2 separate regions of the Homo sapiens genome follow, and region 1 is linked to region 2. The links come from fine-mapping of genetic effects on gene expression. A gene starts in region 2. The other region holds a variant in brackets. All regions are shown on one strand. Distances are between the middles of the regions.

The links. PIP is the estimated chance that this variant, and not a neighbour inherited with it, causes the effect.
Region 1: its variant is the best candidate, but not a certain one, in a credible set for the expression of OR2C1 in whole blood (TOPMed, PIP 0.88).

What each region holds. Positions count from the first base shown.
Region 1 is chr16:3,321,423-3,336,435 of GRCh38, forward strand. It overlaps a transcript of ZNF75A not described here, a transcript of OR2C1 not described here and the pseudogene RPL7L1P19. Among named protein-coding and RNA genes, the nearest start is that of ZNF75A, 23 kb to the left of the region's middle. The variant A/C (reference allele first, on the strand shown) is at 4,584.
Region 2 is chr16:3,349,328-3,364,922 of GRCh38, forward strand. OR2C1 (olfactory receptor family 2 subfamily C member 1) reads left to right here and starts at 6,562. Exons shown (of 1, transcript NM_012368.3): 1 at 6,562-7,979. The coding sequence starts at 6,614. The coding sequence ends at 7,552. RefSeq lists an enhancer at 14,961-15,595.

The DNA of each region.
Region 1 (15,013 bases), 28 kb before region 2:
CATCCCAGACCTAGAGTTCTCCCTGCCGTTAAGCAGACTGGACCTTGAGCTCACCTTGAGAACCTCAGATATATTTTATTTTTGAGACAAGGGTCTCTGTTGCCCAGGCTGGGGCTCACCACAGCCTCGATCTCCCAGTCTCAAGCAATCCTCCCACCTCAGCCTTCTGAGTATCTGGGACTCCAGGCACGTGCCACCATGCCTGGGTTATTATTTTTTTACTTTTAGTAGAGATGAGGTCTTGCTATGTTGCCCAGGCTGATCTTGAACTCCTAAGCTCAAGTGATCCTCCTGCATTGGCCTCCCAAAGTACTGAGATTACAGGCATGAGCCACCATGCCCAACCTCAGATATCTTTTAACTGGAGGGGAAGAACAGGAGGGGCTTAGAATCAAAGTAAATCTCAAAACTAAAACTCCTAGGGTTTCTGTTAACTTTTGGAACTACTGAGAACAGTGTTTAATTTCCCAGGTAAGTTTGAGGAAGAACGCCCAGCAGCCTCTTTTATCCAAATGGACAATTGGTAACAAAAGATGGGAGTTCATAAAGGATTTTCCAAATATTTGTTGAGTCATGCCACTGAAGCATTTACTCCAGCATTTCCTGGTCACTCCTCCCTGTCATGTGTGATGAAGGCTGCCCTGTTACTCTTCTCTTGGAGGTTTTCTAGTGCATAAATACTTGCTGAAGCTCTCCCCACATTCTCTGTGGACTGAATTCTCTCCTATGTAGACTCTCTGAAGTCCCCTCAAGTGGGAAACAAAGTTTTGCCCATACTTCACGTTTCTACTGTTTGTCCCAGTAGAAATCCACCCAAACAAAAAGCATACTTTTGTTTCTGAATCTTTTCTACACCTGTCACTTTTTCTTGTGTGGGTTCACTGGGGACCGAGATGAGGGCACTGTTTGAAACATCAACCAAATTTGCTACATGCCTAGGTTTCCTTCATGTATTAATCCTCCACTGGGCAATGGTAGTTGGGCTGTACTGAAATGCCTTCTTCAGTCGAGCGTCTGTAAGGCTTTTCTCCTGTACGATTCACCCAAATCTGATAATGCGTGTACTTTGCCTAAAGCAGTTCGCCTAGTCTGAATCCCTCCTGTGAAAGGAATTAAGCAAGCTACCTTTTGCATTGCATTTCAGATTTAAGAAAACTATCTGAATCACTTTTCATTTCTGCCACAGTTCAGATAATGAATCTTGAGTTGCACCAATCTTAGCGCTGACATTAAAAATCAAGCTTTACAGTGTTTGGATATGATGCACCTTTTAGGAGAAACTAAGAAAGCTTACTGTTGAAATTTTTTTTTTTGACAAGTTAACATTTATTTTTGGGCCTTTCTTCCTATGTGTATTTCAAGTCTTTTTCAAAACAAGGACCCAGGAATCTCCAGATTCAATTATGTCCCTGGGCTTGGTCGACTGCTCCCGGAGTCTTAGGAAGCCTTGTACAAATGCTAGAGTTACTCATTCACCAACATTAAACCCTAGGATAGAAGATTCAACAAAGCAGGACTACTTCCGCCGACAAGGAGGCAGCCAATGTAGAAAATGCTGGAATTTTTCCTTGGAACTGGACTGTGATGAGAGGTACTTGCCATGAACCTAAGCTACTGTCTTTTTTTTTAACCCTTCCTTTCCAGTTTTTGAAGATAAAGCAGGAAATAGTCTTTGAAGATACTTGATAAAAAAAATCTCAAAAAAACAAAAACACATGCTTCCACTTCATTGATAAAAATTTACTGCAGTTTGGCACCTGGGTCTAGTTCAGCTGGCAGATGAGCTGATTGATGCATTCACCCCAATAGCCAGATGTGCCCATCTCCTTGAGGAAGCCCACTGTATTTTTGGTAGCATGATGGACCACTGAGAGGTGGAAAGGGCAAAAGAACCATGAGATCTCCTGGAAATGCTTCACTGGGAGGCAATTTCATGAATGAGGTCTTCCAAGCAAATGACACCAAACTTCCCCAGGTGCTCCTCAATCACTGTGTTGTCTGTCAGAGGGATGGTGTTCTTATTGACCTTGGCTTGTCCATGTTTCAGAATGAATTCCCGGACAGACTTCAGATTTGGAAATCCCCAGATCACATAAGGTTCCACTATACGCAGCATTTTTAGGTTCTGGGGGGTGACTTTTACAAAGACACCACTAAAAATTTTCTTAAGATGAAGTCTTGCAATGGCTGTCTGCACCAGTAGACTCACGCCAACAATCCTTTTGCTGCATACAACAAAGGCCAAGGAATGTTTATCTGGCAATTCCAAGGCACGAGGTTTCATTTCTAGTCATCTGAGACACACCTTGTCACATTTCTGCCACCAGGAATTATGTAGGAATGATTCCAGTCCCTTAAACCTGAGCCCTTTTCCTTTCCGCTGCTCCTTCTTTGCCAAAAGTGCCTGCTTTGTCTGAGTGGCTTTGAGGACTTGATAAGCCTTCCTCTTTTTCAGGAGATTTTCTGGAACCAAAGGGATTTTTCTTTGCTTTTGCTCTGCCATCTTTCTAGTGTTGTAGCTGCTGATCCTTACTGTTGAATTTTTAAAACCAATAGGTATACTTCCAACATAATTTTCACACTAAGCATTTGCCCATGATTTGTACAATCAACTGAATGATTTCAAAGCATTTGAAACAATCAAAAAGTAAAAGATCTTTACTGTTCACAAAGACAAAATTAAATATTTGTAGCATTAGAAAAATTCCTAAAATATTTAGTAGCATAGGGAACAACAGCTTGTTACACAGAAGAGTTAGGAAAAAAAATTTTTTATTTTATTTTTTGGAGACAGAGCCTCACTCTATCCCCCAGGCTGGAGTGCAGTTGCCCGGTCTCGGCTCACTGCAACCTCCTCCCCAGTTCAAGCAATTCTCGGGCCTCATGCTTCCCAAGTAGCTGGCACCACAGGTGTGCACCACCACACCTGGCTAATTTTTTGTGTTTTAATAGAGATAGGGTTTCAACGTGTTTCCCAGGCTGGTCTCGAACTCCTGAGCTCAGGCAATTCACCTGCATAGCAGAGTTAATAGATGGGCAAAGGCCATTGAGTTGAAGAAAGCACATTATGATGCATCAGCCTCATGTTCTGGGACCAAATCAAAGTACTCACTCTACTGAATTGACCAAGCAACCATGAGAAAAATATCTAACTAAACTGCTCAGTGTTGTAATGGATTTCTCTCTACGTATGTTTGTTTTATAAATATGTTAGAGATGGGAGTCTTGATATGTTGCCCAGGCTGGCCTCGAACTCCTGGACTCAAGTGATCCTCCTGCCTAAACCTCCCCAAATCTGGGACTGCAGGTGCATGCCATCACACCTAGCTCCTACACACACACACACGTATATATATGTACATACATACATATACATACTTACATATACATATATATGCTTACCTCAAATATATTGCAGGTTTGGTTCCAGGCCCATGCAATAACATGAATATCAGAATGAAGTGAGTCACACAAATTTTTTGGTTTTCCAGTACATATAAAAAAGTTATATTTACACTGTACTGTAGTCTTTTTTATTTTTCAGTTTTGTATTGTATTGTATTGTGTTTTATGTTTTGAGACAGAGCCTCACTCTGTCACCCAGACTGGAGTGCAATGGCATGATCTCAGTTCCCTGCAACCTCTGCCTCCCAGGTTCAAGTGGTTCTTTTGTCTCAGCCTCTGAAGTAGCTGGGATTACAGGCACCTGCCACCAGGCCCAGCTAATTTTTTTATTTTTAGTAGAGATGGGGTTTCACCATGTTGGCCAGGCTGGTCTTGAACTCCTGGCCTCAACCGATTAGCCACCCTCAGCCTCCCAATGTGCTGGGATTACAGGCCTGAGCCACTGTGCCCAGCCTATTTACTTATTTTTTAATAGAGATAGGGGTCTTACTATGTCGCCCAGGCTGGTCTCAAACTCGTGGGCTTAAGTGATCCTCCTGCCTTGGCTTCCCAAAGTGCTGGGATTACAAGTATGAGCCATCACACCTGGCCTGTAGTATAGTCTTTAAGGGTGTAATTGCATTATGTCTAAAAATATATATATATATATATATATATATATATATATATATATATATACACTTTAAAAATACTGGCATGGAGATATGAAGTGAGTGTGTGCTGTTGGAAAAATGGCAGCGATAGACTTGCTCATCACAGGCTTGCCACAAACCTTCAATTCATAAAAAATACAATATCTGTGAAGTGTCACAAAGTAAGGCACAATAAGGTATGCCTGTATATTAATACATATGTGAATAAACTCTATGGATACCTATATCTCATATAGGTAGATATCTTAAGTGTATATATTTTTAAATATTAAGATGTTTTTCACTATGTTTTTGCTTTGTTGGTGTAAAAGGGAAAAAATGTAAAAATATAAAATATTTCTCAAATTGCCATGCTAAATGAGGCATGTAGGTGCCTGATGTGAGTATTAGTGATGGAGATTATCTCCAAAGCATGGAGGTATTATACTGCAAGAGTGCTCAAGTGCATTCTTTTTTTTTTTTTTTTTTTAGGCAAAGTCTCACTCTGTTGCCCAGGCTGGAGTGCAGTGGTGCGATCTCGGCTCA[A/C]TGCAAGCTCTGTCTCCTGGGTTCAAGCAATTCTCCTGCCTCAGTCTCCTGAGTAGCTGGGATTACAGATGTGCGCCACCAAGCCTGGCTAATTTTTTTATTTTTAGTAGAGACAGGGTTTCACCATGTTTGTCAGGCTGGTCTTAAACTCCAGACCTCGTGATTGGCCCGCCTCGCCCTCCCAAAGTGCTGGGATTACAGGCGTGAGCCACCGTGCCTGGCTCAAGTGCATTCTTATGATGACAGCCTGGGACGCCGAGAACAAACCCAGCACTCACCCTACACCAGGCAAAATGATGTCTTTCTTTCGGAAGTAAATACACTCTCCAAAATGAAGCACATTACCCTCTCAAAACCATTCCCATCCACACCAGACACTGCCTTAAGGAAATCTTCCACTTCTACAGACCATCCAGGTCCCTGATCTCTGACCACAGATTCACACCTCTATTGCAGTTTTAGAAGATATGGTTCAGTGCCCTCTGTTCTATTCAACTAGAAGCTTTACACTTGGGGAGTGTAGCAGACATTTGTTGACTGCCTCCTAACATCCGTTTCACCCTTTTTCCTCTCTGTCAATCCTGATTCCATTTGGAGATCTGAGAGGTTCCTGATCCTGGTTTCCAGGAATGGAGAATGTGACCCAACCTCAGTAAGAGAAAGATTCTACCTCCTTGGTTAGACAATGGCTCAGGGTTAGGCATATGGCCTTAAGCTGGTCCTATTGGGACTTTTCTTGGAGATGCTAGAACAAATCCAGCTCTTGCTGGATGACGCATGTAACCCAGTAGCTGTTCACAATCTTCTTGAAACTGGGACATAGATGAGCCTTAGGATGAAATCAGCATCATAGAAAGCAGAATAGAGTGATAGAAATTCAGTCCTTGGTAACATCATTGAGCTGTAGGATCAAGCATCACCTCATACCTAGAACTGCCCAGTACTTTTCAGCTACGTGAATCTATACATTCCCTTTATTGTTTAAGCCAATGTGAATTGGGGTTTCTGTTCATTGTAACCGAAATAATTCTAATAAATACATAGAGTAATAACTGATTTAAAATAATATATATAGGAAATGGACAATCCTTTTATATGTACCCACTTAGAGGTTTTTCTTATGGAAGTTATCAAACATATATATAATTATAAAGAGAATAGTATAATGAACCCCCTCAAGGCCTTAAAAATCACCAACATTTTGCCAATCTTGTTTCATTTATCCCCTCCAGTTTTTTTATTTTTTGCATTTAGAGGGTTGTTGGTTTACTTTGGAGTATTTTAAAGTAAATCTCAGACATTCTAACATTTCACCCTTAAATAGTTCAGTTTGTAAGAGATAATTCTTGACAATCTCTGCCCTAAACCATCTTTGGGGAACAGTTCCTACTCAGTGGAGGACCTCTGTCCCATAGGAGCAAAGCTCATTGAGAACACAGGAGCTGCCTTTCCCTTCCCCAGAGGGTGACCAAAAAACTTTACTGACAACTTCTCAAGATGGCTTTGTAAGAAGACCCTCTTGACCTCCTCCCTGGAGTATCCATTTATGAGAACACCAGGCATCCCAGATGCCTCGTAATGAGAGTGGTCCGGAAGGGATACTAGATGCCCGTGATGATCCCTGGAGCAAGTTATTACTAACTTGAAACTAAGTAATCTACTCCTGCACTTTTAACAAGCCTCAGAGTGCTTCATTCATTAAGAGTTCAGTGGCATCGGTTAATTAGTGGTTTCCTGAAAGCCTACTGAACAAAAAACTAATAATAATTACACCAGGCATCTCCCCAGGAGTTCAAAGTGCCCTCAGAAGAGTTTCTCATTTACTCACTTGCATTGGCTTTAATTTTTTTTTTCTTGAAACAATGTGTAAATAAATATTCAAAGCATTAAAATTTCATTATAGTTCACCTCCCTCTTAGTAAACCTGCTTGATTTTATTTTGTTTTAATTAGCATTTGACCATCCCATTTGGGTAACTTCTAAGAAGAAAAATGAACCTCAAAATTTAATATCCCTATTCTACTTTCTTCCTCATTTGTTATCATGCTTCCTTGTAATGAGGAATTTTCTCTCCTTTACCCTGGTTAGTGTTCCTTCCTTACCTTGATCCTCTGTCTGGAGTTTTTCTAAAGTAGTTACTCTATGCTTTAACACCCAGTGTCCTGATAGTCAAGAAGTGTGCTACAAACTGCTGTGAAAGATCCTTTATGGCCAGTTAATACTTGCCATAATTTATCAGTGTGGTCTTATAAAAACATACTTAGCCAAACAAGAGTTCTTTGCAACCAGAATTCCTCGTGCCATAAGCTACTGTTTATTACCTTCTGCAAGTCTCAAATCAACACTTAAATTAACCTGCTGACAAAAATTCATTCTGTTCTTATCTCTGCCTAAGGATTACTCCGCCTAAGTTTACTCCCTAAAACTTTTTGAGAATTATGTACGCTGTGTGCTCATTCATTCATTCAACATTGGGAAGATATTTATTGGTCACTTTTTATGTATCAGCCTGTCAAAACTGTGAGACAGGAAAAACAACCAAAAACCTAGCACCTGTCTCCTGGGAGGACAATGTAAGCTTGGATAGGTAGCCAGACTAGGATGGAGAGCAGAAAATAACTGGTGTAGGAAATTGGCTCCCCTTTGGGGTTCTGTGCTCACCCTCCCTCTCCTTATCCCAACAACTCTCTTGAAAAGAACATACCCAAATCAGAAGCATACCACGTTAACTGAAGGCAGGGTCCCTGGTGGAGCAATGACAAACAGGGTTGACAAATAGGAAGAGTTCAAGCCCAGAGAGTGTTGCCAGAAGTACTATGCTCTGAGGGTGTTGCCCCACGCCCTGTCTAAACTTGCCTGGTGGAGAACAGCCAGGGCCTGACCTTTGGTCTTTCCTTCACTTACTTTATCACCAAGGTAGCTGATGTGCACAGGGAATAGTAAACACAACACATGAAATAAAACAGTTGGGTGGACTAGGAAAATTAATTAATTAATTAATTAATTTGAAGCAGGGTCTCACTTTGTCACCCAGGCAGGAGTACAATGGCATGATCTTGGCTCACTGACGGAGCCAAAGGATACAGTCAAATAAGGAATCAGTAAGCAGAAAGATCAGAAAGAGGAACACCTCTAGAAGGCATCAGGAAGGGATGGGAGGGAAGACACACACACACACACACACACACACACACACACACACACACACAGCTTAGCTATGGAGCGGGAAGAAGAAATGGAAACATTCTGCCTGCATTTGTGTGAGAAGGAGTATCAGAAGGAGAGAAAAATAAACAATAATTAATATAGAAAATATCTGAAGAATGACCAAGAATGTCCCAGGATTAAAGACAAAAGAACACCACGAAAAGAGTTTATAGGATAGATAAGAATAAAGGCCAAAAAGGGGGAAAAACATGCATACCTAGAAACATTACAGTAAATTATTATTATTATTATTTTGAGACAGAGTCTCGCTCTGTCGCCCAGGCTGGAGTGCAGTGGCGCGATCTCAGCTCACTGCAAGCTCCGCTTCCCAGGTTCATGCCATTCTCCTGCCTCAGCCTCCTGAGTAGCTGGGACTACAGATGCCCGCCACCACACCCGGCTAATTTTTTGTATTTTTAGTAGAGATGGGGTTTCACTGTGTTAGCCAGGATGGTCTCAATCTCCTGACCTCATGATCCACCCACCTCGGCCTCCCAAAGTGCTGGGATTACAGGCGTGAGCCACGGCGCCCGGCCTTTTTTTTTTTTTTTTTTTTTTTTGAGGTGGAGTCTCACTCTGTTGCCCAGGCTGGAGTGCAGTGGCGCAATCTCAGCTCACTGTAACCTCTGCTTCCCGGGTTCAAGTGATTCCCCTGCCTCAGCCTCCTGAGTAGCTGGGATTACAGGTGCCCGCCATTATGCCTGGCTAATTTTTGTATTTTTAGTAGAGATGGGGTTTCACCATATTGACCAGGCTGGTCTCAAACTCCTGACCTTGTGATCCGCCCGCCTCGGCCTCCCAAAGTGCTGGGATTACAGGCATGAGCCACCGCGCCTGGCCTTAAAATTTAACAACATCAAAGAAAAAGTGTGTTTGTTTTTGTTTTTTTGTTTTGTTTGTTTGTTTTGTTTTGAGATGGTGTCTCGCTCTGTTGCCCAGGCTGGAGTGCAGTGGTGAGATCTCGGCCCACTGCAAGCTCTGCCTTCCAGGTTCACGCCATTCTCCTGCCTCAACCTCCCGAGTAGCTGGGACTATAGGCGCCCGCCACCACACCCAGCTAATTTTTTGTATTTTTTTTCTTTTTTAGTAGAGACAGGGTTTCATCGTGTTATCCAGGATGGTCTCGATCTCCTGACCTCGTGATCCACCCGCCTCAGCCTCCCGAAGTGCTGGGATTACAGATGTGAGCCACCATGCCCGGCTGATTTTAAGACTTTTTCTAAAGCTACATTAATCAAAACAGTGTGCTATTTGTAAAGGGATAGACACATAGATCAATGGAACAGAATGGAGAGTCCAGAAATAGACCCGCATAGATAAAGCCAAAGAGTTTTACATAGGTAACTTTTTTTTGCCTTGTGAACCATCATAATCTTTATTTTTTATTGATACATAATATATGTATGTATGTGATGATTGAATACATTCATATAATGTGTAAACATCAAATGAGAGTAATTAGTATATCTGTCACATTAAATATTTATATTTTCTTTATGCTAAGAACATTTGAATTATTCTCTTCTAGCTATTTATTTTTATTTTTTAGAGACAGAGTCTTATTTTGTAGCCCAGGCTGCATGCAGTGGCACAGTCACAGCTCACTGCCATTTCAAATTCCTGGGCTCAAGAGATCATCCTGCCTCAACCTCCTGAGTGGCTAGGACTACAGGTGTGCACCACTAGGCCCAGCTAATTTGTAATTAAAAATTTTTTTTTTCTAGTTCTAGATCCCTGAGGAATAGCCACACTGACTTCCACAATGGTTGAACTAGTTTACAGTCCCACCAATAGTGTAAAAGTGTTGCTATTTCTCCACATCCTCTCCAGCACCTGTTGTTTCCTGACTTTTTAATGATTGCCATTCTAACTGGTGTGAGATGGTATCTCATTGTGGTTTTGATTTGCATTTCTCTGATGGCCAATGATGGTGAGCATTTTTTCATGTGTGTTTCGGCTGCATAAATGTCTTCTTTTGAGAAGTGTCTGTTTATGTCCTTCGCCCACTTTTTGATGGGGTTGTTTGTTTTTTTCTTGTAAATTTGTTTGGGTTCATTGTAGATTCTGGATATCAGCCCTTTGTCAGATGAGTAGGTTGCGAAAATTTTCTCCCATTTTGTAGGTTGCCTGTTCACTCTGATGGTAGTTTCTTTTGCTGTGCAGAAGCTCTTTAGTTTAATTAGATCCCATTTGTCAATTTTGGCTTTGGTTGCCATTGCTTTTGGTGTTTTAGACATGAAGTCCTTGCCCATGCCTATGTCCTGAATGGTAATGCCTAGGTTTTCTTCTAGGGTTTTTATGGTTTTAGGTCTAACGTTTAAGTCTTTAATCCATCTTGAATTGATTTTTGTATAAGGTGTAAGGAAGGGATCCAGTTTCAGCTTTCTCCATATGGCTAGCCAGTTTTCCCAGCACCATTTATTAAATAGAGAATCCTTTCCCCATTGCTTGTTTTTGTCAGGTTTGTCAAAGATCAGATAGTTGTAGATTTGACCCAGCCATCCCATTACTGGGTATATTCCCAAAGGACTATAAATCATGCTGCTATAAAGGCACATGCACACGTATGTTTATTGCGGCATTATTCACAATAGCAAAGACTTGGAACCAACCCAAATGTCCAACAATGATAGACTGGATTAAGAAAATGTGGCACATATACACCATGGAATACTATGCAGCCATAAAAAATGATGAGTTCACGTCCTTTGTAGGGACATGGATGAAATTGGAAATCATCATTCTCATTAAACTATCATAAGAACAAAAAACCAAACACTGCATATTTTCACTCATAGGTGGGAATTGAACAATGAGAACACAAGGACACAGGAAGGGGAACATCTCACTCTGGGGCCTGTTGTGGGGTGGGGGGAGGGGGGAGGGATAGCACTGGGAGATATACCTAATGCTAGATGACGAGTTAGTGGGTGCAGCGCACCAGCATGGCACATGTATACATATGTAACTAACCTGCACATTGTGCACATGTACCCTAAAACTTAAAGTATAATAATAATCAATTAAAAAAATAAATAAATAATAAAATAAAAATTTTTTTTTTGTAGAGACAGGGTCTTGCCATATTGCCCAGGATGGTCTTGAATTCCTGGACTCAAGTCATCCTCCTGACTCAGCCTCCCAAAGCGCTGGGATTACAGACGTTCTTCTAGCTATTTTGAAAAGTGTAATAGATTATTGTTGACTATAGTCACCTTAGTGACCTATTGAACACTAGTTCTTATTTTTTCTACCTAACTGTATATTTGTACCAATTAATCAACCTCTTTTTATCCTCCCCCCCACTACCCTTCCTGGCCTTTGCTAACCTTCTCAGGCTTCATGAGATTCACTTTATCAGCACCCACATGTGAGTGAAAACGTGTGATATTTGTGTTTCTGTGCTTGACTTATTTCACTTACAGTAATGACTTTCAGTTCCATCTGTGATGCTACAAATGACAAGATTTGTGTTCTTTTTTATGGCTGAATAATAATATTCTATTGCATATATATATATGTATGCACATATACATACACCACATTTTCTTTATCCATTCATCCATTGATGGACGCTTAGGTCGGTTTCACATTATGGCTTTTATGAATAGTGTTGCAATAAACATGGGAACTCAGATATCTCTTCAATATATTGACTTCCTTTCTTTTGAATATATATCCAGTAGTGGAATTGCTAGATCACATGGTAGTTCTATTTTTAGTTTTTTTGAGGAACTTCCAACAGTTTTCCATACTGGCTGTACTAATTTACATTCCCAACAACAGCGTACAAGGGTTCACCTTTCTCCACATCCTCGCCAGCAGCTGTTATTTTCTGTCTTTTTAAATTAAAGCCATTTTTAACTGGGGTGAGATATATCTCATTGTGGTTTTGATTTGCATTTCTCTGATGATTGATGATATTGAACATTTTTTCATATGCCTGTAGGCCATATTTATGTCTTCATTTGAGAAATGTGTATTCGGATCTTTTGCCCATTTTTTTTTTTTTTTTTTTTTTTTTTTTTTTTTTTTTGCTATTGAGTTGTTTGAGTGCCTTATATTATTGGTTTTTAGTTTCTTGTCAGAGGGAGAGTTTACAAATATTTTCTTTTTTTATTTTATTTTAGTTTAGTTTATTTGAGACGGAGTCTCCCTCTGTTGCCCAGGCTGGAGTGCGTGGCACGATCTCGGCTCACTGCAAGCTCCGCCTCCCGGGTTCGCGCCATTCTCCTGCCTCAGCCTCCCCAGTAGCTGGTACTACAGGCACCCACTACCGCGCCCGGCTAGTTTTTTGTATTTTTAGTAGAGACGGGGTTTCACCGTGTTAGCCAGGATGGTCTCAATCTCCTGACCTCGTGATCCGCCCGGCTCGGCCTCCCAAAGTGCTGGGATTACAGGCGTGGGCCACTGTGCCCAGCCAAGTTTACAAATATTTTCTATGGGTTGTCTCTTCACTTTATTGTTTCCTTTGATGTACAAAAGATTTTTAGTTGGATGTAATTCATTTGTCTTGTTGCCTGTGCTTTTGAGATCTTACACAAAAATATCTTTGCCTAGATCAATGTCCTGGAGCATTTTCCCCATGATTTCTTCTAGTAATTTCATAGTTTCAGGTCTTAGATTTAAGTCTTTAATCCATTTTGAGTTGATTTTTGTATATGGTGAGAGACAGGGGGCTAGTTTTATTATTCTACCTATGTATATCCACTTTCCCAAGCACCATTTATTGAAGAGATTGTCCTTTCCCCATTATATATTCTTTTTGGGGTGGTGGGGGGACAGGGTCTCACTCTGTCACCCAGGCTAGAGTGCAGTGGCACAATCTTGGCTCACTGCAACCTTCTCCTCCTGGACTTGGGTTATCTTCCTAACTCAGCCTTCTGAGTAGCTGGAACTACGCGTGTGCCCCACCATGCTTTGCTAATTTTTTTTTTTTTTTTTCAGATGGAGTATCACTCTCTCCCCAGGCTGAAGTGCAGTGGTGCAACTTCAGCTCACTGCAACTTCCGCCTCCCGGGTTCCAGTGATTCTCCCGCCTCAGCCTCCCGAGTAGCTGGGACGACAGGCACGTACCACCATGCCCAGCTAATTTTTGTATTTTTAGTAGAGACGGGGTTTCACCATGTTGGCCAGGATGGTCTCGATCTCTTGACCTTGTGATCCGCCTGCCTCGGCTTCCCAAAGTGCTGGGATTACAGACTTGAGTCACCTCAGCACAGCCTGCTAATTTTTTTTAAGTTTTTGTACAGACAGGGTTTTACCATGTTGCCCAGGCTGGTCTCGAACTCCTGGACTCAAGCAATCTGCCCAACTCAGCCTCCCAAAGTGCAGGTATTGGGAGGCCAAGCTGGGCAGATTGCTTGAGTCTAAACTATTCCCAAAGTACAGGGATTACAGGCAAGAGCCACCACGCCCAGCCTTCCCATTGTATATTCTTGACACCTTTGTTGAAAATGAGTTGGTTATAAATGCATGGATTTAATCTGTGTTCTCTATTCTGCTCCATTGGCCTATGTGTCTGTTTTTATGCCAGTACCATGCTGATTTGGTTATTATAGCTTTGTAGTATACTTTGAAGAAAGCTAGCATGATGCTTCCACTTTGTTCTTTTTTTTTTTTTAAGACAGAGTCTCACTCTTGTTGCCCAGGCTGGAGTGCAATGGCTTGATCTCGGCTCACTGCAGCCTCCGCCTCCCGAGTTCAAGTGATTCTCCTGCCTTAGCCTCCCCAGTAGCTGGGATTATAGGTGTGTGCCACCATGCCTGGCTAATTTTTATATCTTTAGTAGAGACGGGGTTTCACCATGTTGGCCAGGCTGGTCTTGAGCTCCTGACCTCAGGTGATCTGCCCGCCTCAGCCTCCCAAAGTGCTGGGATTACAGGCGTGAGCCACCATGCCTGTCTCCACTTAGTTCTTTATACTCAGGATTACTTTTACTATTAGTGGTCTTTTGTGGGTCTGTATAACTTTTAGGATTTTCTTTTCTTATTTCTGTGAAGAATGTCATTGGCATTTTGATAGAGATTGCATTGAATCTGTAAATTGCTTTGGGTAGTATTGTCATTTTAACAATTTTAAATCTTCCAATACATGAGTATGGAATATGTTTCCATTTTTTGGTGTGTATGCTCTTCAGTGTCTTTCACCAGTGTTTTATAGTTATCTTTGTATAATCTTTTACTTGTTTGGTTAAATTGATTCCTAGGTGTTATATATTATTTGAAGCTATTGCAAGTGGGATTGCTTTCTTTATTTCTTTTTCATGTTTCAGATTGTGTGTTATTGGCATATATAAATGCTACTGCTTTTTTTTTTTTTTTTTTTTTTTTGAGATTGAGTCTCGCTCTATTGCCCAGGCTGGAGTGCAGTAGCGCAATATTGGCTCACTGCAACCTCCACCTCCTGGGTTCAAGTGAGTCTTATGCCTCAGCCTCCCCAGTAGCTGGGATTACAGGCGCCCACCACCACATCCAGCTAATTTTTGTATTTTTAATAGAGACTAGGTTGCATCATGTTGGCAAGACTGGGCTACTACTTTTTATTTTGATTTTGTATCTACCAACTTTACTGAACTTGCTTATTAGTTCTAAAAATTTTTTTGTGGAGTCTTTAGGTTTTTCTAAATGTAAGATCATGTCATGTGCAAACAAGACTAACTTCGCTTCTTCCTTTCTAATTTGGAAGCCCTTTATTTCTTTCTTTTTGCCTAATTACTCTGGTCAGGATTTCCAGTATTATGTTGAAGACAAGTGGTAAAAGTGGATATGCTTGTCTTATTCCAGATCTTAGAGGAAAGGCTTTCAGTTTTTCCCCATATCAATATGATGTTAGCTGTGGGTTTGTCATATATGGACTTTATTATTTTGAGGTGTATGCCTTCTATACCTAGGTGGTGAGAGTTTTTATCATAAAGAGATGTTGAATTATGTCAAATGCTTTTTCAGAAAGTATTGAAATGATAATATGGTTTTTATTCTTCATTCTGTTAATATGATGCATTATGTTTATTGATTTGTATCCCTGGGATGAATCCCACTTGATCATGGTGAACGATCTTTTTAATGTGTTACTGAGTTTGGTTTGCTAACATTTTTTTGAGAATTTTTATGTTCATCAGGAATATTGGCCTGTAGTTTTCTTTTTCTTTCTTTCTTTCTTTTTTTTGAGATTGAGTCTCGCTCTGTTGCTCAGGCTGCAGTGCAGTGGCGTGATCTTGGCTG
Region 2 (15,595 bases):
TGGCGCTTTGTGCTAATTGCTTGTGCGGGCGTGGAGATCTACCCTTGGGCGCTGCAGAGCCAGCCACAGCAAGCCAGGCTTCCAACTGCGACCCAGTGCTACTCCAGGGCCAGAAGAGCCCCGAGGTTAAAAGCTGTGGCCCCAGTTCGCGGACAGGAGGAGCGCAGCACAGCCTCCCTCTCGGTCCCATGCCTGCCCTCTCTCCTTGATTCACTAAGCATGGAGACAGAGGATGGATGTGGGGGAATCTCAAAGCCAAAGGTACATTTCCATAAACAATCCCTAGACTGATTATTAAAGAATCCAGGATATAAGAGAGAGAGGCGAACAGGGGGGAAAAAAGATGGGAAAAGGAAAATAGCAGAGACAGAGAAGGAGAGAGAAAAGGGAGAGTGTTAAATAGCTTTTTAAAGGCACTGATTTTGGGGGCCAGGCGTGGTGGTACATGCCTGTAATCCCAGCTACTAGGGAGGCAGAGGCAGGAGAATAGCTTGAACCCAGGAGGCGGAGGTTGCAGTGAGCCAAGATCGTGCCACTGCACTCCAGCCTGGGCAACAAAGCGAGATTCCGTCTCAAAAAAAAAATTCACTGTTTTATGGCTTCTTCCTTTAGGCGAAAGGTTGGCGGTGACATGGTATTAGAGCCCAAGCCCGTTTATACAGAGGTCTGTGACCTCTGTCAGCAAGAAGAGTCAGGAAGGAAAAATACTCAAACTGTAAAAGGGAATCTTTTTTTTTTTTTTTTTTTTGAGGTGGAGTCTCTCTGTCGCCCAGGCTAGAGTGCAATGGCAAGATCTCGGCTCACTGCAACCACCGCCTTCCAGGTTCAAGCGATTCTCCCGCCTCAACCTCCCAAGCAGCTGGAATTACAGGCGCCTGCCACCACGCCCGGCTAATTTTTGTATTTTTAGTAGAGAGGGGGTTTCCCATGTTGGCCAGTCTGGTCTCGAACTCCTGACCTCAGATGATCCACCTGCCTCGGACTCCCAAAGTGCTGAGATTACAGGCGTGAGCCACCGCGCCCAGCCCAAAGGGAAATTTTTTGTTTGGTTGGTTGGTTGGTTGGTTTTTTTGTTTTTTTGTTTTTTTTGTGTTTTTTTTTTGAGATGGAGTCTTGCTCTGTCGCCCAGGCTGGAGTGCAGTGGCGCGATCTTGGATTGCTGCAAGCTCCACCTTCCGGGTTCACGCCATTCTCCTGCCTCAGCCTCCCGAGTAGCTGGGACTACAGGCGCCTGCCTCCGTGCCCGGCTAATTTTTTGTATTTTTACTGGAGACGGGGTTTCACTGTGTTAGCCAGGATGGTCTCGATCTCCTGACCTTGTGATCCTCCCGCCTCGGCCTCCCAAAGTGCTGGGATTACAGGCTTGAGCCACGTGCCCGGCCCCAAAGGGAAGTTTTAAAACAACAATTTTAAGAACCCCTTCACAAAAGTCATCTCTGGAATGGTCCAGGAGAGAAGCTGGGAAATTCTTAACATACAAACAAACAAAAGCCCTTTTGCATGCACAACTCTGTTCTGGGAACAGAGTCCTCAAGCAGAAAAGGATCATAAAAGACTTCAGGTATAGGCTGGGTGCAGTGGCTCATGCCTGTGAACCTAACACTTTGAGAGGCTGAGGCGGGAGGATTGCTTCAGCCTGGGAGGTTGAGGCTGCAGTGAGCTATCATTGCACACTCCAGCCTGGGTGACACAGTGAGACCCTGACTCAAAAAAAAAAAAAAAAAAAAGAACTTAAGATATATTCAGTGCCTTCAGGCAGGCAAATCTCTAAGCATACCTTATTTTTCTCTTGCCAAAGAATTTAATCAATATTTTATCACACCAACACCTCAAAATGCCCTATCGTAATTTCTCCTGCTCTGAATTTAAGTCTTTTTTCTTTTTTTCTTTTTCTTTTTCTTTTTTTTTTTTTTTTTTTGAGACAGAGTTTTGCTCTGTTGCCCAGGCTGGAGTGCAGTGGCATGATTTCGGCTTACCACGGCCTCTGCCTCCCAGGTTCAAGCAATTCTCCTGCCTCAGCCTCCCTATTTTTTTTGCTTTCCATAGAGAAGGAGAAGGAGAGCACCTGCTTATGAAGCACACATTTTTAAAATCTCCTCATAATAGTGAAGACATTAATTGGAAGAAAATTTGTTATGGAGAATGGTCTGAGAAAAAAATAATTGGAAGTAAAAAACCCACTTCTCCCTTTAACTATTTCCTCCTAAGCAAGTCTCCCGTCTTGGCCATACTTCATAGGACCTATGTCCTCCTTCTCCCTGTTCTCTAAAAATCTGTGTACTCCATTATCCTTTTTAAAATGCTAGGCAAATCAGGTAAGACCCTCGGATAAGGAATTGCTAATACAGTACACAGCAGAAAGCTTACTCCCCAGCCCTTACATGGAACCTCCTTTTGTTCATTTTTCTCTCTGGGACACCCATTGCAAGTTGCCTTCAGCTTGCAGAGATGTAACCTTGAGAGCTACTCCTGGGATACTTGTGCTTCTCTAGCCTTTTCCAGTCTAAATTTGTGCTGTTGAATTTTTGTACTTATTTGATGTATTGCCAAGCATTTAGTCTTTTTTTTTTTTTTTTTTCGTATTTTGTAAGATCCTGGGCTTATTAGAACTGCCACCTTGGCTCAGCCCATGGTCCATTCAGCCAGAATTGTTTCTTTGACAGCAGAATTAGAAAATACATTTTAAAGGAGCTTGATTGTTTTCCCTGATGCAAGCATCAGAAGTTAAAGTCCCTTCCGAGTGGCCTAGATTTCCTTAATCATGCATTGTATCTGTGTTTGTTAAATTTAAATTTTAATTTTTTTTTGAGACAGAGTCTCCCTCTGTCGCCCAGGCTGGAGTGCAGTGGTGCAATCTTGGCTCACTGCAAGCTCCGCCTCCCAGGTTCAAGCCATTCTCCTGCCTCAGCCTCCCGAGTAGCTGGGACTACAGGCGCCCACCACCACGCCCGCCTAATTTTTGTATTTTTAGTAGAGACGGGGTTTCACTTTGTTCGCCAGGATGGTCTTGGTTTCCTGACCTCGTGATCCACCCGCCTCGGCCTCCCAAAGTGTTGGGATTACAGGCGCGAGCCACCATGCCTGGCCAAATTTTAATGTTTTTAAACTTATGATGTTTTAATGTTTTTAAATTTTAATGTTTTTAAACTTATGAGTTTGAATGTTTTTAAACTTACTGATGTCTCTTAGAAGTAATAATTTACATAAATTTACTATTAACTATGTATTTTTTTCTTTCATTCATCCTTAATTGACTTTTTCTAAGATTCAAACTCCCCCATTTCTAGTTCTTGAATTCTAAGATTTGGGGAGGGGAAAAATCCCTGTTCACTTTGTCTAATACCAGCCCCCCACAGACCAAACAACTTTGGAAGAAGATGAGCAGTGTCTTTCTGTCTGTTTCTTTCTTTCTTTTTTTTTTTTTTTTTTCTGAGGTAGAGTTTCACTCTTGTTGCCCAGGCTGGAGTGCAATGGCATTATCTCAGCTCACTGCAAACTCCGCCTCCTGGGTTCAAGTGATTCTCCTGCCTCAGCCTCCTGAGTAGCTGGGATTACAGACATGTAGCACCACGCCCGGATAATTTTTTTTTATTTTTAGTAGAGACATGTTTCACCATGTTGGCCAGGATGGTCTCGAACTCCCGACCTCAAGTGATCTGCCTGCCTCGGCCTCCCAAAGTGTTGAGATTACAGGCGTCAGCCACTGCGCCCGGCCCTGTCTATTTCTTTGCCCTAAAGGGACACAAGGGAACAAGCACCTGAACTGGCAGGAGGTAGTAGAATGGGTTTCAGGAAGAACTTCTGAAAAGAAAGATGAGCTGATTATCCGGTTAGTAACTCAGTTCCTCAGCTCTCTTAAGTCCTAGATGAAAAGAATAAGTAGGCCGGTCGCGGTGGCTCACGCCTGTAATCCCAGCACTTTGGGAGGCTGAGGCGGGCAGATCACGAGGTCAAGAGATCGAAACCATCCTGGCCAACATGGTCAAAACCCCATCTCTACTAAAAACACAAAAATGAGCTGGGGATGGTGGTGTGCACCTGTAGTCCCAGCTACTTGAGAGGCTGAGGCAGGAGAATTGCTTGAACTCAGGAGGTGGAGGTTGCAGTGAGCCGAGATCCCGCCACTGCACTCCAGCCTGGTGACAGAGCGAGACTCCGTCTCAAAAAAAAAAAAAAAAAAAAGAATAAGTAGGCCGGGAATGGTAGCTCATGCTTGTAATCCCAACACTTTGGGAGGCCAAGGTAGGCAGATAACCTGAGGCCAGGAGTTCAAGACCAGCCTGGCCAACATGGTGAAACCCCGCCTCTACTAAAAATACAAAAATTAGTCAGGCGTGGTGGTGCACTCCTGTAATCCCAGCTACTTGGTTGGCTGAGGCAGGAGAATCGCTTGAACCTGGGAGGCAGAGGTTGCAGTGAGCTGAGATCACGCCACTGCACTCCAGCCTGGGTGACACTGCTAGACTCCATCTCAAAAAAAGAGAAAGAAGGAAGGAAGGAAGGAAGGAAGGGGAAGGGCTGTGGTTTATGATCTTCAGAAAAGTTGAGATCCTGGCCAAGGAAAGGGGATGGTGATTGGCCCATTATTAACAAGAGCTGATTTTTTTGTTCATGAGATGGGTTTTTTGTTTGTTTGTTTGTTTTTCTTTTCTTTTCTTTTTTTTTTTTTTTTTTGAGACAGAGTCTAGCTCTGTTGCCCAGGCTGAAGTGTAGTAGTGCAATCTCAACTCACTGCAACTTCCGCCTCCCTGTTTCAAGTGTTTCTGCTGCCTCAGCCTCCTGAGTAGCTGGGGCTGCAGGCGCCCGCCACCATGCCCGACAAATTTTTTGTATTATTAGTAGAGACGGGGTTTCACCATGTTGGCCAGGCTGATCTCAAACTCTTGGCCTCAAGTGATCTGCCCACTTTGACCTCCCAAAGTGTTGGGATTACAGGCGTGAGCCACTGTACCCGGTCTCATGAGATGTTAAGAATTATTTGATGATTTAGACGTGGACACAGTAGTTATATACCTCAAAAGAGGGATCTCCTCTGTAAATCTTCTAATTTCCCTTACTAATTATGAATACCCATTAACTATTTTAACCCCTTTTTGTGTAACCTCTGTTTATATCTTTTGCCTTTTCCACCTAAACTTATTTAAGCTTAAGTGAAGTTTTGTTTGCTCTACATTGACCTCCTCTTAAATTGTACATTCCCAGCTTCTGTATTTGGAGCATAAGTCTGTATCTACTCTTTCCATTATTTCTGTGACTTTATAGATTCATCATGTTATTCCTCAAACATCATCTTTCTAGATCCAGCACTGAGGTAAAACTCAGAGGGGAGGGATGTAGAAGAGAGCAGAGGAAATTTAACAGAAAATTCTGGGGAGCTTTTCCAAATACAATGTGTCTGCTTCCCCCCTTCCCTGAGCGTATCAGAATCTTGGCTGGGGAAATGTGTTGTTGCTGTTGTTTTCAAGAGATAGGGTCTCCCTCTGTCACTCAGGCATTGGAGTACAGGGGCTCACTGCTGCCTTGAACACTGGGGCTCAAGAGATCCTCCCACCTCAGCCTCTTAAAATGCTGGGATTACAGGTGTGAGCCACCATGCCTGACTGAAATTTCAGTCTGACTGAAAGTTTTTGAGAACTTTCACATCTAATTCTAATGGTCAACTCTCTCTATCCCGTCATAGCCATTGTTCTGAACTGAAGGGCTCTTCAGTTCTTGGGGTCTTTTGGTTTTGTCATCATGAGGCACTTCCTTCATTTCCGTGTTAGCTCATACCTGACATTCTGATGGAATCAACTTTTCCATTCGGTGTGTAACCAACAGTAGATGGGGATTACAACAGAAGTTTGAAATCTAGGCCACGCACGGTGGCTCACACCTGTAATCCCAGCTTTTTGAGAGGCTGAGGCTGGCATATCACGAGGTCAGGAGTTCGAGACCAGCCTGGCCAACATGGTGAAACCCCGTCTCTACTAAAACAAAAATTAGCCAGGCATGGTGGTGCATGCCTGTAGTCCCAGCTACTCGTGAGGCTGAGGCAGGAGAATTGCTTGCACCTGGGAGGCGGAAGTTGCAATGAGCCGAGATTGCACCACTGCACTCCAGCCTGGGTGACAGAGCGAGACTCTGTCTCAAAAAAAAAAAAAAAGCTTGCAATCTTAAAAAGTAAGTTGGAGTCCAGGTGCAGTGGTTCATGCCTGTAATCCCAGCACTTTGGGAGGCTGAGGCAGATGGATCACTTGAGCCCAAGAGTTGGAGACAACCCTGGGCAACATGGCAAAACCCCATCTCTACAAAAAATACAAAAGTTATTTGGATGTGGTGGCACACACCTGTGGTCACAGTTACTTGGGAGGCTGAGACAAGAGGATTGCTTGAGCCAGGGAGAAGGAGGTTGCAGTGAGCTGAGATTGTGCCACTGCACTCCAACCTGGGTGACAGTGAGAGACTCTGTCTCAAAAAACAAACAAAAAATAGGTTGTTACTTAACTATGGATCCCAGAGAACTATTAGACCGTTCCTGATGCAAATCCACCTCATCCAACAGCTTTTTCTTGACTTTTCTTCCAGCAGCTTGCGCTAAATGAATTCATCAAGTGACTGAAGACAACCAGTGATGGACGGGGTGAATGATAGCTCCTTGCAGGGCTTTGTTCTGATGGGCATATCAGACCATCCCCAGCTGGAGATGATCTTTTTTATAGCCATCCTCTTCTCCTATTTGCTGACCCTACTTGGGAACTCAACCATCATCTTGCTTTCCCGCCTGGAGGCCCGGCTCCATACACCCATGTACTTCTTCCTCAGCAACCTCTCCTCCTTGGACCTTGCTTTCGCTACTAGTTCAGTCCCCCAAATGCTGATCAATTTATGGGGACCAGGCAAGACCATCAGCTATGGTGGCTGCATAACCCAGCTCTATGTCTTCCTTTGGCTGGGGGCCACCGAGTGCATCCTGCTGGTGGTGATGGCATTTGACCGCTACGTGGCAGTGTGCCGGCCCCTCCGCTACACCGCCATCATGAACCCCCAGCTCTGCTGGCTGCTGGCTGTGATTGCCTGCCTGGGTGGCTTGGGCAACTCTGTGATCCAGTCAACATTCACTCTGCAGCTCCCATTGTGTGGGCACCGGAGGGTGGAGGGATTCCTCTGCGAGGTGCCTGCCATGATCAAACTGGCCTGTGGCGACACAAGTCTCAACCAGGCTGTGCTCAATGGTGTCTGCACCTTCTTCACTGCAGTCCCACTAAGCATCATCGTGATCTCCTACTGCCTCATTGCTCAGGCAGTGCTGAAAATCCGCTCTGCAGAGGGGAGGCGAAAGGCGTTCAATACGTGCCTCTCCCATCTGCTGGTGGTGTTCCTCTTCTATGGCTCAGCCAGCTATGGGTATCTGCTTCCGGCCAAGAACAGCAAACAGGACCAGGGCAAGTTCATTTCCCTGTTCTACTCGTTGGTCACACCCATGGTGAATCCCCTCATCTACACGCTGCGGAACATGGAAGTGAAGGGCGCACTGAGGAGGTTGCTGGGGAAAGGAAGAGAAGTTGGCTGAGAGAACACTCCTTCGTTATTTATTGCGTCTTCATCTCTACATGCGTTTCTCATTAACTCTCTCTGGCCAGGTGAACATGAGGAATACTAATTCCGGTAAAACCAAGGCATGTTCCTGACAGCCCTAAGCTGACAGCCCTAAGCTGTTGGGAACATGGTTAGTGTTATTCGTAATGTTCTACACTTATTTACCAAAAATCCTACTGTGGACTACCGATAGCAGGGGAGACATGTTGTTGAGGGCTCAGAGGTTATTGACCTGTGACAGACCTGTCTCACTGTCTCTGTCTCTGTTGCCCACATGTTATTTAATATGCCTTATATTTCTGCAGAATTCTGTACTTTTCTAAGCAAAGCACCTCCACTTGCAGTATCTTACATAATGTTACTATAATTCCATAAAATCAAGCCATGTATTATTAACTTCATATGAAGACCCAAACAATTCATGTTTTTACCCTATCTGTCATTATCTTTGCCTACCTCTTTTTGTCTCTTCTTCATTTTTTTTAAGAGTTGGAGTCTTGCTCTGTTGCCCAGGCTGAAGTAGAGTGGCATGATCTTAGCTCACTGCAGCCTTCAACTCCTGGGCTCAAGCAATCCTTCAGTCTTCTGAGTAGCTGGGACTATAGGCACATGCTACCACACCTAACTAATTTTTATTTTTATTTTTTACAGATGGGGTCTCACTCTGTTAACAGCCCAGGCTGGTCTAGAATTCTTGGCCTCAAGTAATCTTCCTGCCTTGACTTCCCCAAGTGCTGGGATTATGGGTGTGATCTACCGCACCTGGCCTGTCTCTTCTTAATAATGCAGTATACCACTGGGTGCAGTGGCTCACACCTGTAATCCCAGCACTTTGGGAGGCCGAGGCGGGTGGATCACCTGAGGTCAGGAGTTCGGGACCAGCCTGACCAACATGGAGAAACACTGTCTCCACTAAAAATACAAAATTAGCCTTGCATCGTGGCACATGCCTGTAATCCCAGCTACTCGGGAGGCTGAGGCAGGAGAATCGCTTGAACTCGGGAGGCAGAGGTTGTGGTGAGCTGAGATCGTGCCATTGCACTCCAGCCTGGGTAACGAGCAAAACTCCGTCTCAATAATAATAATAATAACAATAATAATAATGTAGTATATCTGTCCATACTTTCCATCCATATATCTCTCCATCATCTTGTTTACCCTCTCCCTTATGCCTATATTCCAATTTCTCTTCTACTAATCTATTATTTAATAATAAAAGATTAAGCCAGGCACGGTGGCTCACGCCTGTAATCCCAGCACTTTGGGAGGCCGAGGTGGGTGGATCACGAGGTCAGCAGTTCGAGACCAGCCTGACCAACACGGTGAAACCCCGTCTCTACTAAAAATATGAAAAAAATTAGTTGGGCATGGTGGTGGGTGCCTGTAACCCCAGCGACTTGGGAGGCTGAGGCAGGAGAATCATTTGAAGCTGGAGGGTGGAGGTTGCCGTGAGACGAGATTGCACTACTGCACTCTAGCCTGGGCAATAAGAGCGAAACTCCATCTCAAAAAAAAAAAAAAAAAAAAAAAAAAAAGAAAGAAAAGATTAAAAAGGTCATTTGCAGCTGGGCACAGTGGCTCATGCCTGTAATCTCAGCACTTTGGGAGGCTGAGGTGGGTGGGTCACCTGAGGTCAGGAGTTTGAGCCAGCCTGGCCAACATAGTGAAACCCCATTTCTACCAAAAATACAAAAATTAGCCAGGTGTGGTGGTGCACACCTATAGTCCAGCTACTTGGGAGGCTGAGGCAGGAGACTTGCTTGAACCCGGGAGGTGGAGGTTGCAGTGAACTAAGGTTGCAGTGAGCTGAGATTGCACAACTGCACTTCAGCCTGGGTGACAAGAGCAAGACTCTGTCTCCAAAAATAAAACAAAACAAAACAAAAAGGTCATTTGCCTTTTGATTCTAGCCAAAGAGGGTCCCTTGCTACTCTCTTATTGAAATCATCCCATCCAAAAGTCCCAGACATCAGATGTCTTACCAGCATTTGGGTATGCTAGTCTGGTCAGTGGATAATGGAATGTCCTAAGATTCCTTATGCAAATTTAAGACCCCAGGAAAGATCATCCATCCATAAAGTATGTTCTCTGCCTCAAGATCTAGTCTTGAAGCCCTGCAGTTCCTAAAATTCAGCAATCAGTTCAGCACACAATTAATTACTCATCTTTCAGGAACTCACATGTTGGGATCAGAATGCCAATTTGTGATTCTGCACATTCCTAGAATTGCCAAAGGGATCCCCACCTGTTACCACGATTCATTTACTATTTTCCCAGACAGAGAAGCTAGGTTAATATAAGAAAGTTGCATGACAACTACATTACCATAGAAAAGGGAATCAATAGGTTTTAGAACTAGTTCAAAAGGGGCTTTGGCTTTGTGTCCCCATAATTTTGAAACACATGCCTTATACATAGTAGATACTCAATAAGTGTTTAGCAAATATAATTAATAAGCTTCATGAGTCCTCCTTTATCTTGCTAAGAACTAAATTTGTCAAATGGACCGTCTTCATGTTTGCCACTTTGGGGTCATCCCATCCCTTGGACAGCATTGAACAAACAATGATAAATGTTCCCTTTTCCACATTACCATAATTCCTTCCAAAGACATCTAATCATACTGTCCTGTCATGAGTTTGTTTTTCCAATAGCAGATCAAAGCCATTTTGCCAGTTCCTCATACAGCAATACTCAAATACGTCTCCAGAAGTAGACAACTGTTAACATTATCTTGGCGAATTTATTAAAGTCCAGAGTCTTGCAGGCTCAACACTGGTTTTGTTTTGTTTTGTTTTGTTTTGTTTGAGACAGAGCCTTGCTCGGTTGCCCAGGCTGGAGTGCAGTGGCGATCTCAGCTCACTGCAACCTCTGTCTCCTGGGTTCAAGCAATTCTTGTGCCTCAGCCTCCTGAGTATCTGGGATTACAGGTGTATGCCACCATGCCAGGCCAATTTTTTTTTTTTTTTTTGGTGGAGACAGGGTTTCACCATGTTGGCTAGCTGGTCTCAAACCCCTGGTCTCAAGCGATTCACCCTCCTCAGCCTCCCAAAATGCTGGGATTACAGGTGTGAGTCATTGCACATGGCCAGGCTCAACATTTTCATTGATCAGTACACTCAGATTAGGTCAAGTTCTCAAGAAGTAGGTTCACAATGACCAAGTTCCTAAAGCTGTTATATAAACCAAAATGCCAGCTGATTACGTTATGAGAACAGTACCAAGAGACTGAACAGTTGCATCCTCCAGTCAATTCATTTAAGTTGTGAAATAACTTGGGAGGAAATAGGAAGAAAATGGACAGGTATTCCTGAGACATATGAGTGCTGTAGAGCCTCCATATGGAAAAAATTGGACATTTTGTAACTAACACAGAGTTCTGGGTGTGGTAAGACACAGGGAATTAGAGGAAGAAGAACAAGCTGACTGGCTATGGTGAGGAAATGAATACATCACAGGGATCGCATATAACTTCGTCAACACACATACGCTTATGTTCCATTCTCAATGGTGTTCATGAAACAAGGTCAAAATTTGGGAGGAAAAGAAGCAAATATAAAGCAAGCTCCTTGTTATTGAGGGTTTGGAGTCCTATTTCTAGGTGTCCAGGAAAAAAATATGTTTGGTGTCTTGTTCAGTTGGAAATTCAGGAAATGACAGACAAAACCACCACCAAGGGCCGGGCACAATGGCTTACGCCTGTAATCCCAGCACTTTGGGAGAATGAGGTAGGCAGATCACTTGAGGTCAGGAGTTCAAGACCAGCCTGGCCAACATGAGACTCTGTCTAAAAAACAAACAAACAAACAAACAACAACAAAACACTAAAACCACCAAGACCTATGAAAGACTCACCAACCTTAGTAAAATAGAAATGAAAAGCATTTGAATATGCTCATCTGCTCACTGGATTTAAGTGAGTTTGAGAGCCCATCGCATAGAGCCCTTCTCAGAGTCTGTCTGGATCCCATACCTTTCCGTTTAAGGTATCAAAGGCTGCCTGAATACCTCAAATGAGCAAATTCTGAAGCTGCCAATGAAGACAGTCAATCCTTTTCCATTCTTCTCAGCCTTCAGGCTCAAGTCCAGGAAAGATTAGGAAAGATTAGAATCAAGGAACCGGGAAGAAATAGAAGTTGAAAAGTGACTTTGGCTTGCTGCATATACACTTTAGTATGTGAGCTCTGAATTAGAGACTATGGTAGGACGCAGTGGCTCACACACCCGTAATCCCAGCACTTTGGGAGCCCGAGGAGGGAGGATCGCTTGAACCCAGGAGTTTAACACCAGCCTGGGCAACATACTGAGATCCCGTCTCTACTAGAAATTTAAAAATTAGCTGAGTGTAGTGGTGCTTGCCTATATCCCCAGCTACTCAGGATGGTGAGGCAGGAGGAACGTTTGAGCCCAGGAGTTCAAGACTACAGCGAACCGTGATTCCATCACAACACTCCAGCCTGGGAGACACAGTGAGGTTCTGTCTCAAATAGATACATAATTAAATAATAGACTAATTTGGAAGCTCTATTAATGACTTTGCAAAAAGGTCTAGTGTATTTGACCAACGGTGGCTAAGTGTACTGAGTATTCACCATTTGCTAGATGAGGATCTAAACTCTACACACTTCCACTCATTCAATCCTCACAATCCATGGGCCACCTGCTATTATGCTTGTCCTCTTTTTTTTTTTTTTTTTTTTGAGACAGAGTCTCGCTCTGCCGCCCAGGCTAGAGTGCAGTGGCGTGATCTCGGCTTACTGCATATGCTAGTCCTCATTTTAAGATGAGGACACTGCAGCATAAAAGGAAACTTGCCCAAGATCATGCTTTGGTAGGGTAGGGAATCAAAGCATAATCGTCTTGACTCTAAAGCTGTGCGTACTCTTTTTTGTAAAAACAATCGCAAACTTACAGAAAAGTTGGAAGCATGAAACAAAGACTTCCCCTGACCTCCAATTATTTGAGAGTAAGTTAGCAACCTGACACCCTGTCTTCCCCAAATATCTTGTGGTGTGTTTTCAACAAACAAGGACATTATCCTACAGAGCCACAATATAACCATCAAAATTAGAAAAATGGGCCAGGTACAGTGGTTCACACTTGTAACCCTAGCACTTTGGGAGGCCGAGGTGGGCAGATCACCTGAGGTCAGGGGTTCAAGACAAGCCTGGCCAACATAGTGAAACCCCATCTCTACTAAAAATACAAAAAGTAGCTGGGCATGGTGGGACATGCCTATAATCCCAGCTACCCGGGAGGCTGAGGCAAGAGAATTGCTTGAACCCAGGAGGTAGAGGCTGCGGTGAGCCAAGATCATGCCACTGCACTCCAGCCTGGGCAACAGAGTGAGACTCCATCTCAAAAAAAAATTTTTTTTAATGAACATTAATACATTTCATTATCTAATCTGCAGACCCCGTTCAATGTTTGCCAACTGTCCCAACGATGCCTTTCATAGCGAAAGAATTTTCTTCACAATCACACATTGCATTTAGTTGTCATGTCTCTAGTCTTTGTCAGTCTGAGATGGTTCTTCAGTTTTTTTCTTGACTTTCATGATTGCCACACTATAAAAGATTGTTAGCCAGTTATCTGGTAGACAATGTCTCCATTTGGGTTTGAAGTTTCTTCACATATAGACTCAGGTTAGCATCTTTGGCAGGAATATCACAGATGGGAGGTTGCATTCTTCTCATTGTGTCCTATCAGGGGGTGTATATTTCAGTTGTTTTCATTTCTAATGGTGTTACGTGGATCACTAAATGAAGATTGTGTTGACCAGCTTTCCCATTGTTTCCCTCTTTGTAATTAATAAGTGTCTTATGGGGAAGTACTTTGAAACTATGTAAATATCCTGCTACTAATTAAACTCAATTTGTTCATTTATTTGGTTCTATCTTATGCAATTAAGGTTTTCTGTTTTATTTAATGGTTTATAATAAGGGTATCCAACCCACAGGCCACAGAGAGAAAGAGAAATACATATGTGTGTATATATATGTATATACTTATATCTGACATGCAAAGCAGTGCTCTGCCCTTGCTTTTTCCCACACTCAGGCTCTGCTTTCTCTTTCTCTCTCTCTTTTCTGTCCATTTAGTCATCTACTACCCTGCCCTCTGAATAGAAAGGCAGCAAGGTGCCTCAGAAAGTTCAACACTCTGGGAGTCAAGAACTTGAGTATTTGGGTGCACTCTGCAACTAATTAGTTAGGGTAGTCAGTGGCTCTTTATAGCACTCTGTCTCATCATCTGTAAAATGACTATAACAGGTGGCAGGAACATTGTAGGAATCAAAATAGATAATCCACATAAGAAATGCATGTGTTTAAAAAACTCCTCCATGGTTATTCTTAATCAAAGATGGCATACTTTTCTTAGAAGTGTCATCAACCTATTTCACATCCCACTCCCTGTATTTATATCCTGATGAGGTACTACTCCTTTGTGCTACCAGGGCCTTCATAAATGATGGATGAATGAAGGGGGGCAAGACTGAAGGCAGAAAGACTACATAGAAGCCTTAGTATGATCCTCCACTCTTCTTTCTCTCACACTCCACATCTCAATCTAGTAGCTCCCTCTTCAAAATATACCCAGAATACCCAATCCGGAATCACACACACGTGAAAATTAGAAAAGTATTTGTATGTCCACCAAAAGAGGAATGGTCGATTATATATATTGTGGTGGGGGGAGGTGGGGAGCAGCATGGAAAAACATTTTAAAAAGAATATGCATGGTGGTACATGCCTAAATGCAGCTTTAAAAAATTATATATATATATAAACGAAAAGAAAAAAACAAAAATTATATATATAAATGGAAAAAACCGACAAGAATTAGTAAATGTAAAAAAAATTATATATTAAGAACCAGAAAGATATACACACTAGTAATGTTACTAGTGGAGGGTGTCCAGGTTCTTGGCGTTTGGAACGAAGAACTGGACAAAACACACAAACAAGGCAAGGAAAAAAATGAAGCAACAAAAGCACAGATTTATTGAAAACAAAAGTACACTCCACAAGGTGGCAGCCCGCAGAGCATAGGGGCTCAACAGGCATGTGCCAGAATTTTTCTGGGGTTTAAACACCCTCTACAGGTTTCCTATTGGTCACTTGGTGTACACCCTATGTAAATGAAGTAGTGGCCCGTAATCGGCCCTAGGTTCCCTTAGGTTGCTTTGTGCAACCAGAGGCTGAAGTGAAGTTACAAAGGTTACACGCTATGCAAGCATCTGATACTTTCAAATTTTTGTCTGCCACGCAGAAGAGGTGATGGAGTTTGTAAAGGGAGTAGCCTCCAGTCCTTTCAGTGGGTCCTTTCCTTACTTAGGTGGGGAAAGGGAAAGTTGGGGTTTTCCTTTTGATTTAGTTCTAGGAAGTCAGCGTGAATCAGTTAGGTTTCCTGCCTCCAGACCCTATTCCTCTGCCTCAGTAACAGTTATTTTCTCTAGGGAGGGAGTGTAATTTCAGAGGCAAAGTATGAATATATTTTGTTAATCATTTGTATTTATTTATTATTTATTTATTTTGAGACAATCTCGCTCAGCCGCCCAGGCTGGAGTGCAGTGGCAATTACCTCTCACTGCAGCATCGAACTCCTGGACTCAAGTGATCCTCCCGCCTCGGCCTCCCAAAATGCTGGGATTACTGGCGTGGAGACTTCAGTTTTAAGTGAGAACGTTTTGCAGTACTTACTTAATATTAAGAAATAAAAACAACTTAGAGTGGGGGGAAAAAAAGCCACTGGATTAGATACGAGTTCTAGTCAACGAAAGTCACTTAAACTCTGTTTTGGCTTCCTCGTCTGGAAGATGAAAATGGTAATATAACTGACTGAGTAGGGTTGCTGTAAGTATGAGTTAGTGTGTAAATGTTTACAATTACGCAGGGCACACAGCAAGCGCCACGTTTTCTATCAGGGCTACTCTCACCTAACGCGTAAAACAGGATGGCATGCCCAGCGGGATCCGGGCCCTGGGTTCTCAGGCATTGTGATTGGTCTCAGCATA